Linked DNA regions of Homo sapiens. The protein of the gene in region 3 interacts with the protein of the main gene of each other region in a pairwise test. Each region holds a gene or a part of one and is shown on either strand. Other genes may lie near its edges.

Region 1 (3,500 bases), on a different chromosome or scaffold from region 3:
TCACATCTAGTAGAATTATAAGAAAATGAAAATGTCACAGATTCCAGGGTACTTAGTGGAAGTTAGCTTATGAAGAACTGACATATACAATGACAGAAGAAGGCTAGATTGGGCATTACAAATAAAGATGTTTGGGTTGGCGTTCAGTGCCTTGGCTTTCCCTAACACTTGTGTTTATCATCAGGCACAGCAGTGACCACCACCTCAGCGGCTGTAGTGTCCCAGAGTCCTCAGCTGTATAATCAAACCTCCAATCCACCTGGCTCTCCGGTAATCCTGTTGTCCTATATACAAAACTCGTGGCTGATGGGGAAATTTTGTTTTGCTATACAAGTATTACCCTTTCCTGTTGTATGAGCCAGGATTGAGTAATACACACTTCAACCTTATTTCTTTCTGTTGTTTTAAAATATTAATTTTATGATATATATGTGCATGTATATTTTAAATATAAAATTTCAACTGTGTATTTACACTTTATGCATGCTTGACCTTTAGAAAGTTGTCGCCGGGGCCGGGTGTGGTGGCTCGCGCCTGTAATCCCAGCACTTTGGGAGGCCGAGGCGGGTGGATCACGAGGTTAGGAGATCAAGACCATCCTGGCTAACACGGTGAAACCCCGTCTCTACTAAAAATACAAAAATTAGCCGGGCGTGGTGGCACATGCCTGTAATCCCAGCTACTCGGGAGGCTGAGGCAGGAGAATTGCTTGAACCCCGGAGACGGAGGTTGCAGTGAGCCAAGATTGCGCCACTGCAGTCCAGTTTGGGCAACAGAGCAAGACTCCTCTTGAAAAAGAAAGCAAAAAAGTTGTCAACATGTGTTTTGCTGAGGGATTGCCTTAGATTATTGCTACAGTGTGTCTGTCAGGGGAGCCCTTCCTCCTGGATGATTGCAGTGATTTAGCTCTCTTAAAAGGCTTTACAGTTGAAATTATATTGAAGCTGCTGTTCTTTCCAGACTGAGGAAGCACAGCCTAGCACTAGCACAAGTACACAGGCCCCAGCCGCTTCCCCTACTGGTGTAGTTCCTGGTACCAAATATGGTAAGCCAAACCTCATGGGGCTGTTGACAGTTGGAAGGTCTTAGTTGTTGTCTTTGTTTAATGAGAGTTCTTCTCCCTTTGCGGGTGTCAGAGGGACACTTGGGGATGTGAGACAGAGAAGAAACATTAGGCCTGCTGCATCTCACTGGCTTAGAATTTGAAATAAAGCCAATTTCTTACCTGGAATGACTGTATGCTGGATTTTGTTTTTGCAGCAGTACCTGACACGTCCACTTACCAGTATGATGAATCTTCAGGATATTACTATGATCCGACAACAGGGCTCTATTATGACCCCAACTCGCAAGTAAATGTGCTGCTTTCCTCCTCAATTTCACTAGAAGTAGTTTCGCTTAGTGCATTTATGAGGCATAAAATGAAATATTTCCTGCAAAAGAATATATGACTCAGATTAGTTTTAACTTCTTCAAAGCCACCAAAATGTAATTTTTATATGGAGATTGTAAGTTTTAATTGTAGGGTTAAAAAATGTTTTGAGGTATAATATACACACAAAAAAATACACAAAACAGAAATGTGCAATTCTTTGAATGTTTATACATGTCTATACATTTGTATATTACATGTGTATATACACCACCACTTATTCCCAGCCCACCTAATCCTCATGCCCATTGCTGGTCAGTAACCTATGTCTTCAATAACCACTATTTTGATTTCTGTTGCCATAGATTATTTTGTCAAGTTACAATTTATGGAAAGACCTAGCTAGAAATTTTAAATTGTACTTTTCTCCCTATTGTTTAACCTTTTAGAGTGTACAAATCAGTGGCTTTTAATATATTCACAGTGTTGTGTAACTGTCACCACTGTCTAATCTCAGAACATTTTCATCACTCGAAGAAGAAACCCTGTACCTGTTAAACAGTCACTCCCCATTCTGTACTCTCCTCCAGTAACTACTAATCTACTCTCTGTCTCTATGGATTTGCTTTTTTTATTTTTTTTGTGGCACGATCTTGGCTCACTGCAGCCTCCACCTCCTGGGTTCAAGCAATGCTCCTGCCTCAGCCTGCTGAGTAGCTGGTAGCTGGGATTACAGGCGCCCACCACACCCAGCTAATTTTTGTAGTCGAGACAGGGTTTCACCTTGTTTGCCAGGCTGGTCTCGAACTCCTGACCTTAAGTGATCCACCCGCCTCAGCCTCCAAAGTGCCAGGATTACAGGCATGAGCCACTGTGCCCAGCCCTCTGTTCTTGACATTTCATATAAGTGGAGTCAGACAATAGATTACCTTTTGTGTCCAGCATCCTTTACTTTGCCTCCCTGTGTATTCTTGAGGGTAGAATTTAGCAGATGTATGGAGTGATGTTTTATTTTTGGTGGCATATATAACTTTTAAAAGGGAAAAACAACTTTAACACCCCATAAATAACTCTATTTATGACCGGGAGCTGTATATATAGAACAGTAATAAGTATTTTTAACAGGAACTTGGCATTGATAGGTTGTGGTTTCTGAGAGATTGAAGTGTGAAGCTGTGTGTGACGTGCCTAAGCAGGCCAAGCCTCTGCATACCTCTTCCATCCACTTCTCTCATTTGTGAAGCCTGGCCATTTATTTCCCTGTCAGTTCTTTTTTTTTTTTTTTTTTTTTCCCGTCAGTTCTCTTTGGTGGCCTTAGAAGTTGTGTCTGTAGGCTGGGCGCAGTGGCTCACGCCTGTAATCCCAGCACTTTGGGAGGCCAAGATGGGAGGATCACTAGGTCAGGAGATTGAGACCATCCTGGCTAACACAGTGAAACCCCGTCTCTACTAAAAAAAAAAAAAAAATACAAAAAAATTAGCCAAGCGTGGTGTCGAATGCCTGTAGTCCCAGCTACTCGGGAGGCTGAGGCAGGAGAATGGCGTGAACCCGGGAGGTGGAGCTGGCAGTAAGCGAATGTCGCGCCACTGCACTCCAGCCTGGGTGACGGAGCGAGACTCTGTCTAAAAAAAAAAAAAAAAAAAAAAAAAAAAAAGTTGTGTCTGTTAGCCACGCCACCTTACCCAGAAGAGACAGACACTGTCTCCTGGGTCCCTGTTGAGCAGATAGAGTGAGCGACTGGAAAATAGAGGAGAGGATATGTGACACCTCTCCTCTGTTGCAATTCCTGCTGAGCTTGGGTCCCTTCACCAACACCTCCTTCCAGCTCTGTGCTAGTGTTTACACCCTGTGTGTGGTTGCCTGGTATCCAATGGATTCTATGTGGATGGGCCCAATGATGAGCTGTTGTCATGGCAGATGTCTGAACTCCATGACACGCCCACCTGTTCTGGCTGCCTGGTTTATGTAAATAGTCTGTGGAACAGAGTGAGACAAATTGCTCTTTGGGTGCCCTCTAGGTAGGCCCAGGGATTAAATTAATGGGAACTAGACTTTTTAAATTTTTATTATCATTTTTTTTGAGATGGAGTCTTACTCTGTTGCCCAGACTGGAGTGCAGTGGCATGAT
Region 2 (3,500 bases), on a different chromosome or scaffold from region 3:
AGGTGGGAAAGGTGGGACAATTGAGTATAGTGCCGGGGGTTTAGCATAGTGGGATGACTCAAGGGTATGATATTTACAAAATGCTTAGCACCTGGTTAGCGCTTAATGAATGGTAGCTGTAATTGTGTCAATTTTCATTACCCAGGAATATGAGGGGGGTCGGAATGAGGCAGGCGAAAGGCACGGACGTGGGAGGGCACGGCTACCCAACGGGGACACCTACGAAGGGAGCTACGAATTCGGTAAAAGACATGGCCAGGTCAGAACCGTTGACTTGACTGGATGGTTTTCTCTATTTAATACTCTGTTAGCAAATGCTACATTCAGCAATGATATGAATGATATAATCAATGTGTTTCAGGGGATCTACAAATTTAAAAATGGTGCTCGATATATCGGAGAATATGTTAGAAATAAAAAGCACGGTCAAGGCACTTTTATATATCCAGATGGATCCAGATATGAAGGTAAAATGTTATCACTAAGCAGATTTTCGTGTTACAGAAGTTTTTCTTTCTTTATGACTGAACTTGTCTGTGAATACTGACATGTATGAGAAAGCTTAAAGTTCTCCAGTTACTCATTCAACGAACACAGATCGTGTTACTATATTCACAGTGTTGATGCAGAAATAGGAAAGCCTTGTAATTAATTAACTCACTAATGAATCTGTAGTGGGAAATCTGTCCCTGTGGCCAGCATGTCCATGTCCTGGGAGCAGACAAAAGGGAGGCTCCTGAGTGGACGCAGGCCTCGCAGCTGGTGGACCCACGGCTTCAGCTGCTCTGCGGCATTCATCTTCCTGAACCTGTCTTTGCATTTTCCATTTCTGACCAACCCCGCCATCTGACGGATGTGTTATTTCTTCAGATCGAGTGTTTCCTTACATCAGGGCTTCCTGTCTGGGAGTCTTCCTGCCTTGTTAAACTGACTTTTCCTACCTGTGCCATAAGTCCTTACAGGCCAATGTTATGTTTGAGGAGGATTCTTTTTCCTTTATTTCCAAGAACCTCCCTGCCGCCCCTTGTGCCGTTGTCACCTGGTGTGACCACATTAGTGATATCCCAAACCTGGGCAGGGGGACCGGCAGGGAGCGTGTTGTGAGTCTTCAGAAAGTGTATATAAAATTCTGTGTTCTGGGCTTTTTGTTTTTTCCCTAGGAAGAAAGAAATTGTCTAGTTTTCTTCAGATTTCCAAAAAGATCTGTGACCCTAACCTTGGACTCTGGTGACAATAGGTGTGAGCTTGCATAGGTGACTTCACATCTCCTTGCCTCAGTTTCTCATCTGTAGCATGAAGATTCAATGGATAAACACAGGGAGACACCTGCAACCTTGCCTGATCCATAGTGAGCACTCAGTAACTGGGGCTAGGACTGTGATGTACCACTTGTGACAGCATCACTTCTTAGTGAGGAGGACATATTCTTACAAAGTGCGAGCTATAGTTGCTTGCTTTGCTCCTAGATAAAATAAGAACCAGTAGGTGGTTCTTATTTTAATAGATGTCAGTGATGATTCTGTCCAATTCTGAGACCAAGATGGAGGGTTTTAATACCATCCCTGTTAGATAGAAATTGTTTTGTTTTGTTTCATAAATCCCAGAAGGCTTGCTCTATAAGAAGCACCATCTGCTTTTTAAATCAACTTTAAACAATTTAATTTGGGGCTTAATTTAATTCTTTCCAAATCCTTATGCACCTAATCTCATTCTTGTCACTTTTGATTTTAGTGTAGATGTTGATACAATTTGAACAACACACACACACACGAAGATATTTAGGATAAGGGATTTAAGGAATTTTGAATATGAAGGTTAAAAATGGGTAACTGTTTCTCTGACACCAAATGCATGGATTTTCCATGCTATGTACTTCTCCAGTCTTCTGTGAACACCAACTGAGTTTCCAATGATGCAACTCCATTCTGACACCACCCAGAGTTAGCACAGACCCCACAGGTTAAGGGCTCAGTTTCCAAGACTGCCCCACTTCAGATGTCAACCTCAAGTTGTGGATCCGGAGGGTACCCACAGTTCTACCTGACTCGGCTACAAATTGGGGGTTCCTACAACACCCTACTCAGGTTTGATAATGTGCCATAGCGGCTCATAGGACTCAGGAAAGCACTTTACTCATGTTTACTGTAAAGGATATTATAAAGAATATGGATGAACAGCCAGATTCAGAGGTACAGAGGGCAAGGCCTGGAAGGTTCCCAAGCACAGGAGCTTCTGTCCTTGTGGAGGTGGAGTGCACCACCCTCCTGGCACATGATATGTTTATCACCCCAGAAGCTCAACAAATCTTGCTCAAGAGTTTTTACAGAGCTTAATCTCTGGCCCCTTCCTTCTTCTTTACCAAAAGTTGGTGGGTGGGGCTGGAGGTTCTATCCTTCTTATCACTTGGTCTTTCTGGTGTTCAGTCCCATCTTGAGGCCATCCTGGGCCTCATTTGCATAAGTTCAGGTGTGGTCAAAAGAGTCTCATTTTGAATAACAAAAACATTTCTATCAGTCAGGAAATGTCAAGGGTTTTAGGAGCTCTGTGCTGGGAACCATGAATAAAGACCAATATTTCTTATTATGCCACACTAACATATAAAGCTCTTCTGGTAACAGTTGGGATTTTTGATTCTCCAGATGGCTTTGTATCTTAAAGGGTGCAAGATTTAGCCACTACCCAGAGATTTCTTCTCTGACAAAAGCTTAAATAAGTGTCTTACTTCATGAAGGCAGCAATGGAAACTGAGGTCAGAAGTTATAATATTAATTATAACATAGTAAGCCAATACTCTTCCAATCACAAAATCTCAGTTAATGTATGGCTGAGTTATTCATAACAGTGTATCTTGGCTGGCTGCCATCACAATGGGCCAGAATGGTTTTGTGCAGGGCAGTGTGTTCAACGTCAGGACCCTGTGGCATAAAGTCCAGTACCCTACCTGTCTCCCAGATGGTCACACAAGTCCAATTAGGGAGTCCAGGAGCCAGCAGAGGCTATAGTGCTGCAGGAGAGGAGTGGGGAGACGGTCCTGGGTGGCGGGTGACTTGGATACAGGCAGGAAGGCCGAGGTTTTTAGGGGTAGTGGGGGATGAGATGGAGGGGAGGGTGGGTGCCAGATGTGGGGGAGGCCTAGACCCCATGTACTGATGCTGAGGGTTGGGGGTGTAGGGCCAACTGAGGACTCTGAGGTTAAGGGGGAGAAAGAGCATCCCTATTCCCTGCTGGCCTTGTTGCCTGTCAAACAGAACTCATCAAAACAAAGAAGTTTAAGAATGACATTGTGGAGAAAGAAGAATGACATGATAACTTGAACCTGGGTTTTTTGGAAGCCCCCGAATGGCAGGAGCTGGAAAAAATGAGCACTTGACTGTTGGGATGCTTGTGGAGAAGAGAGCATGGTGTTAGACAGACTCCAATTTTCATTTCAGTCTTGCTACCCACCAGCTGTGGGACCTTGGGGAATGCATGCAGTCTCTCTGCTTTTCAGGTTCTGCATC
Region 3 (3,500 bases):
AAAGTATAAAAAGATTATTTATGAAATGAAGCAACAGAGAACTTTTCAGCTATTTGTGATTTTAGTCCTTCATCCTATTGTCAGCCTACTAAGTTTTCTTCAGTTGAGCTAATCATTTTCCGATTGGTGCAAAGCAAAGTTACCTATTTTATGTCATTCTTAGTGGTCTTTGTCTATATATTCATGAGTTTCAAGGGGTCCTTAAAGCATTGTGTTTTATATTCCATTTTCAGCTTATACTGGAACCATTTAAGAATTCTTATCACCTTTGTATATTTCCAACATTGCGGAGCTGTGATTGAATATGCTTTTTGTCAGTGTTGGGAAATAAAGTGAAAAGATCCACAACAAATCCAGTACCATTTTTCTGGTGCTCAGATATATTTTTTTTTTTAAGACGGAGTCTTGTTCTGTCACCCAGGCTGGAGTGCAATGGCGCAATCTCAGCTCACTACAAGCTCCGCCTCCCGGGTTCACACCATTCTCCTGCCTCAGCCTCCCAAGTAGCGGGGATTACAGGTGTCTGCCACCATGCCCGGCTAATTTTTATGTATTTTTAGTAGAGATGGGGTTTCACCATCTTGGCCAGGATGGTCTTGAACTCCTGACCTTGTGATCCACCCACTTCAGCCTCCCAAAGTGCTGGGATTACAGGCATGAGCCACCATGCCCGGCTGTACTCAGATATTTATTGAATGAATTCTGTTTCCATGTATGTTTCATTAACTTCTTGAAGTTAATCTGATTTCAGGTTAAAGTCAAACCATATTTGAGTTACTTTTAAGCCATAATTATTACTTAGTGTACATTTGTGTGACATTAATTTATCATTTTTCTCTTTTCAGGAGCTCCTCCATTCCTGAGACCACCTGGAATGCCAGGACTCCGAGGGCCCTTACCCCGACTTTTACCTCCAGGACCACCACCAGGCCGACCCCCTGGCCCTCCCCCAGGTCCACCTCCAGGTCTGCCTCCTGGTCCCCCTCCTCGTGGACCCCCACCAAGGCTACCTCCCCCTGCACCTCCAGGTGATGCTTTCAATTTCTATAATAAAAACTTAGCCTGCTGTTTATTTAATTTGCTCTAAGACATATGGTCACATTTCAGTATTCTGAAATCTGAGGTCATCTTACAGTCAGTGGTGGTTTTTAAGTTGCCGTTGACCTGGCTTGAAGTACAGTTCTTCCAGTGGGTATTTGCACTTGGTTCACTTGAGGAACTTGTAGCCAGAGAACATGGGATTAAATTCTCTATTTGATAATTTTTTGGTTTTAGTTGTAGTTACGAAGCCGTTTCATGCATCTGCATGAGTACCAACTTAAAGTTTAAAATTAGAGTGTTTTTTTCCCTTACCTCTACCTAATGTCAAGGTTAGACATGCAGATTTTCTTGTGGGCTTGTTTTATGTGGTAGGTATATTTCTAGTTTACAACACTGAAATGTCCCAGTTTCATGTGAATATCTGCTTTTCAGTGCCCCAGCTGGGGCTTTTTTTCCTCTCTCTCTCTCAGTGGTACACAGAATAATTATGAGTTTGTAATCAATAGGATCTTAGATTTGATAAAATGTACTTAATATTTCATTTAAAAGTGGTATTTGAAGAACTGAAATCTGCAGTTCTTGGTATATGAATATTGTGTATGTCTGAACTGTCCATAGGACATGAGTTCTTTTCCAGTAATGATGACAGATTGTGATTAGTTGCATTCTCTTACTCCATGTGCATTGTTTTTTTCTTTGAGACGGAGTTTCATTCTTCTTGCCCAGGCTGGAGTGCAATGGCGCGATCTGAGCTCACTGCAACCTCCGCCTCCTGGGTTCAAGCAATTCTCCTGCCTCAGCCTCCCAAGTAGCTGGGATTACAGGCGTGCACCACCACGCCCAGCTAATTTTGTATTTTTAGTAGAGACAGGGTTTCATCATGTTGGTCATCAGGCTGGTCTCGAGCTCCTGACCTCAAATGATCCACCCGCCTCAGCCTCCCAAAGTGCTGGGATTACAAGTGTGAGCCACCATGCTCGGCCTCCGTATGCATTTGATGACCAGGGTTAAAATTTTATTTCCTGCCCATTGACCTTTTTGTGCAGGGGAAATGGTATGGAATATAATGCATGGGGATCAGTCTCCTGACCTTGTCCTTACTAATACCTGCACTATGCAGCTGGAATAGAACCTTGGGATGTGAGATTTGAGATAGTAATTTGAAACCAGTTGATGTCCCTTTATATTTTAAAGTAGGATGTTATTTAGAGAAGAAGAGAACATAATACTGTAAGTACAGGAATATAGGCTGAAGGTAAATACTGTTTTATAATAAAATATTCCTGAGTTTCAAATAGCAACCAATATGAATTCAGCTTATTTTCTGTAAGTTGTTATCCATTTATTTAAAAATTGGCAACCAATATTTAAATGTCCTTAATAGTAGTTAAATTTTATTAGTTCTTACAGTATTCATCTTGCCTATTTTATTCATTTAGGTATTCCTCCACCTCGTCCTGGCATGATGCGCCCACCTTTGGTGCCTCCCCTTGGACCTGCCCCCCCTGGGCTGTTCCCACCAGCTCCCTTGCCAAACCCTGGGGTTTTAAGTGCCCCACCCAACTTGATTCAGCGACCCAAGGCGGATGATACAAGTGCAGCCACCATTGAGAAGAAAGCCACAGCAACCATCAGTGCCAAGCCACAGATCACTAATCCCAAGGCAGAGATTACTCGATTTGTGCCCACTGCACTGAGAGTACGTCGGGAGAATAAAGGGGCTACTGCTGCTCCCCAAAGAAAGTCAGAGGATGATTCTGCTGTGCCTCTTGCCAAAGCAGCACCCAAATCTGGTCCTTCTGTTCCTGTCTCAGTACAAACTAAGGATGATGTCTATGAGGCTTTCATGAAAGAGATGGAAGGGCTACTGTGACAGCTTTTGATGCCAGAAAAGGCTTCTGTTCACAACAGTGGCCCATGGAGAAAGAGGCTCTTATTAAACTTAGATGAAAGAGCTGCTTCCATTGTCAGGGTATTTTCTAATTTCAGTTCAAGGAATATCCTAAAATTTAGCCTTGTTCAGAATTTACTGCACATAAAAAAGGGTATTTCATCCAGAATAGATCAGTTATTGAAGCAGTGCTGCTAACATCCATTCCCTTTCATACCACCATTTTCACCCTGTTTCTTCCCCTCCTCCAGTTCTTTGGAAATTTGTGATCGGGGGATCTTAGTTGCTTATTTGTTTTGACTCTTGTGTGCTGTGGGCACTGGAGTAGAGATTTCTGGAGAAAAAAAAACAGTTTATTTCATCTTGCCTTTTGTGTTTGAGTTATTTTTAATATTTTCCTGTAAATATTTTGTAATATTTTACTTGTAATGAAATGGATCACAATGTCATTTCCTAATACAAGGCAGGATATGTGGGAAGAATATGTACAATTATTTGATTAAAATTATTTCCCACTGACCTAAACTTTCAGTGATTTGTGGGAAAAATAAATAAATGTTCTACACCA
Region 4 (2,975 bases), on a different chromosome or scaffold from region 3:
GTGTGGCTGCCAGGGCCTTAGAGGTTGGCATCAGGCTGCCCACCCCAGTCACTGCCAGAGCCTCCCACCTGAGTGTTCCTCCCGGCACTGGAAGCCAGTGGCCGTCCAGAGGAACGTGATTGAATTGCTGTATATCCATCTGGTGGAGCACTGCTGTGTGTCTGTTAAAAAAGAAACCATAGGTTTTTAGGGATATGTAATGATATTTAGAAAGGGTTTAAGAGACAGTAAAGCTTGGCAGAATAAACCGTGTATACAGAATGGATGTTTGCTTGCATAAATAAATTTATATAAATATGTCTGGGGGATAAAAATAAGTATATCACAATGCTAAGACAGGCATATGGGGAATTTAAGCTTTTCTTTATACTTGTCCATAGTTTCCAATTTTTAAATTTGTAATTTTTTATCAGAAAAATAAATGTGTAAATATAGTGGAATCTTTATTAAAACATTCACTTTTATTTGCTATTTCAGAAGTTACTGCTTTGCTTATTTTTTACAACATTTCTGTGGTAAATAATCGGTGACTTACAAGCCTAGTGCAGCCAGTGATGGGGGTTGGCAAACGGTGACATGCAGGGGCCATGCGGCGTCTAGTGTCTGTTTCTGTGTTGAATTTGTGTAGCAACAGAGCAAGTATTTCTCCTGAAACTCAGACTCACTCAGGCCACCTCAGCCCTTCTAGTTCCTTTCGTTTATTATAGAGTAACCTACAGCAGGAATACCGCGTTCATTTACTGTTAATAGAAGATCCACAAAAGATTTTGAAATCAAATACATTCTAAAACTAGGCAAGACACGCTGCAACTCCCCTTGTCCTCTGGGTTATGAGGGGTGAGCGTTGGTTTCCGTGTGCTCAGATCCCATGAATGAGACCTCACAGGGAAGCGCCCAGTGACTGGCAGGCTCCTTAATGCCTCCAGGTCAGGCTCAGGAAGTCTCTGGATGCCTGGGTAGAGTCTGGGTCTTCTCAGAGCGGGAGGCACCCAGGGCCTGTGGAGGCCTGAGGGCTGCTCTGGGGTTCCAGGGCCCCAGATAGTGGCTTAGCATCCTGGTGACACAGAAGGGAGAGCACTCACCGCGGTCCCACGTGTGTGTTTTGAAGCCTAAGATGTTTGCAATGACTCTCAACAGTCGCTTTGACCTTTTCCCCTAGATCTTTAGCAGTTAAGGAGTTTTTTTCAAAGCCCAAGTATAACCACATTTTGAAACCAGAAGACTGTCTCTCTGAACCGTGCACTATATTGCAGTTGGACATGAGAACCGTGCAAATTTCTGATCTAGAGGTGAGAAAAAGATGAATTGCTCCTTACATTCGATAATCAGTGACCACGAAACACTCAGACCAGAGCCTGGCTTATCAAAAACCTTCAGTGAGTGCTGGGGGTGTGAGTGAATAACTAATTATTTTATTATGCAAATAAGTGAATTTATAAAACGTTTGCTACTGATTTTTTCCAGTCTTTTTTCTTTTTTACGTTCTATTTTGATTCTTTCATATTGTACACCATTTTATGTCTCCAGCGTCTTCATTTTAGATTTATGTTTAATATTCTCAGCATCTTCAAAATCAAATAAATTATATTTCGTTTCATTATGGTATTTGCATTACAGTTTTTTTCAAGTATTTTAAGCCACTCTTCATGACAGAATCGTTAGAATTCCCTCCGTGAATCCCTGTCTGTGGCCGCGCGGTGGCGCTCGTGGGCTCTGGGCGGTTTCCCCGCGCCCCCGCCCTGCCTGGCGCCCCAGCTGGCGCCGCGTCTGGAGATGGGGCGGGCGCGGTGGCGCCGGCGCGCTTTGGTTTTTAGTTCGTTCTGCTGTGGAAAGGCCCAGCCTGGAGCTCTCCAACTCCTTAACTGGAAGAGCTGAGCGCCGAAAAGATTCCGCAGAATCTGGGGTAGAAAATTGGGCGCAAGAAGCTCAGATGCTTGAAACGTTTCTGACTGAAGCCTCTGAACTCACGATGCGGGTTTTGGGGGTGGTTTCCCCAGGCTGGGGGGCTTTTCTACGGTTCCTGACGCATTCAGCGTCTGCGCGGGGCGCGTGGAGGGGGCCGCCCCAACCCGGGCCCTGCGGTGCCACGCGGTGCCCACGCGTGCCTTGTCATCTGCTTGACCCAGACCCTGAGGGGCGAGCTGCGCTTCGACATCAGGAAGGCGGGGACCCTGCACGGCTTCACGGCCTGGTTTAGCGTCCACTTCCAGAGCCTGCAGGAGGGGCAGCCGCCGCAGGTGCTCAGCACCGGGCCCTTCCACCCGTGAGTGTGCGGGGCGCGGGCACGGGGTGCGGGGTGGGGGGCAGGGGAGTAGGCGGGGTGCGGGGATGGGGCGCGCAGGAGGGGGTGGGACGCGGCGTGGCGGTCGTGGGGGGGTGGGGCACGTGGGGGCGCGGGCAGTGGGGTGGGGGCGGCGCGCATGGGGGCACGGGTGGTGTAGACACCGCAGCCTGTGTGCCCCCTTCCGGGTCTCGCCACCACTCTGGGCCCAGCCTGGGCGTCCCTCCGACAACAGCCCCAACGGGAGGAGCTCCCTGTCTTCCACCCCGCGAGGAGCACCACAGCTCTTCATGGTCTGACCCAAAGCGCCTCCACGGGGCGTCGGGGTTCACCTGACGTTTTTGGAGGTGCCTGTTTTTTGGGACACATTTCCCCGCCAGCACCCTGGGCATGTGTGGCAGTGGAGCTGCCTTCAGGGCCCTGCAGGCCTTCCCTTTGGGTGGGGTTGGCTACCCCGCTCTGGCACCTGCCCCGCTGACTTCCCAGCGTGGTGGCCCCGCGAGGGGACCCCGGCTCCAGGGAGGTCGCAGAGGTGCGGGGTTGATGGCCTGGCCTGGCATGTGGTCCCCATCACAAGAGTCCTGTGGTGGCCCCTCCAGTGCCATCACCGGGTGGAGGTGGGCAGCTTGGAGGCCAGTTATACCCATCCCCGAGTCTGGGGGCGTGGAGGGGGCAGTGACCTGGGGCACAGGCT

Evidence for each region. Proteins that work in one complex are often made in the same cells at the same time.
Region 1: the proteins of WBP11 (region 3) and RBM5 interact in a two-hybrid assay, tested with the Homo sapiens proteins (one large-scale study listed by BioGRID and IntAct).
Region 2: the proteins of WBP11 (region 3) and RSPH1 interact in a two-hybrid assay, tested with the Homo sapiens proteins (one large-scale study listed by BioGRID and IntAct).
Region 4: the proteins of WBP11 (region 3) and PRMT2 interact in a two-hybrid assay, tested with the Homo sapiens proteins (one large-scale study listed by BioGRID and IntAct).

Annotation. Positions count from the first base shown.
Region 1 is NC_000003.12:50,109,419-50,112,918, forward strand, and holds part of RBM5 (RNA-binding protein 5), read left to right. Parts: intron 1-184; coding exon 185-270; intron 271-960; coding exon 961-1,045; intron 1,046-1,260; coding exon 1,261-1,352; intron 1,353-3,500. UniProt on the Homo sapiens protein: Component of the spliceosome A complex. Binds to ssRNA containing the consensus sequence 5'-AGGUAA-3'. Regulates alternative splicing of a number of mRNAs.
Region 2 is NC_000021.9:42,489,725-42,493,224, reverse strand, and holds part of RSPH1 (radial spoke head 1 homolog), read left to right. Parts: intron 1-145; coding exon 146-259; intron 260-361; coding exon 362-467; intron 468-3,500.
Region 3 is NC_000012.12:14,786,479-14,789,978, reverse strand, and holds part of WBP11 (WW domain-binding protein 11), read left to right. Parts: intron 1-845; coding exon 846-1,028; intron 1,029-2,480; coding exon 2,481-2,914; 3' UTR 2,915-3,500. UniProt on the Homo sapiens protein: Activates pre-mRNA splicing. May inhibit PP1 phosphatase activity.
Region 4 is NC_000021.9:46,659,674-46,662,648, forward strand, and holds part of PRMT2 (protein arginine N-methyltransferase 2), read left to right. Parts: exon of another isoform or gene 1-1,159; coding exon 1,160-1,289; exon of another isoform or gene 1,290-1,597; intron 1,598-2,126; coding exon 2,127-2,263; intron 2,264-2,975. UniProt on the Homo sapiens protein: Arginine methyltransferase that methylates the guanidino nitrogens of arginyl residues in proteins such as STAT3, FBL, histone H4. Acts as a coactivator (with NCOA2) of the androgen receptor (AR)-mediated transactivation.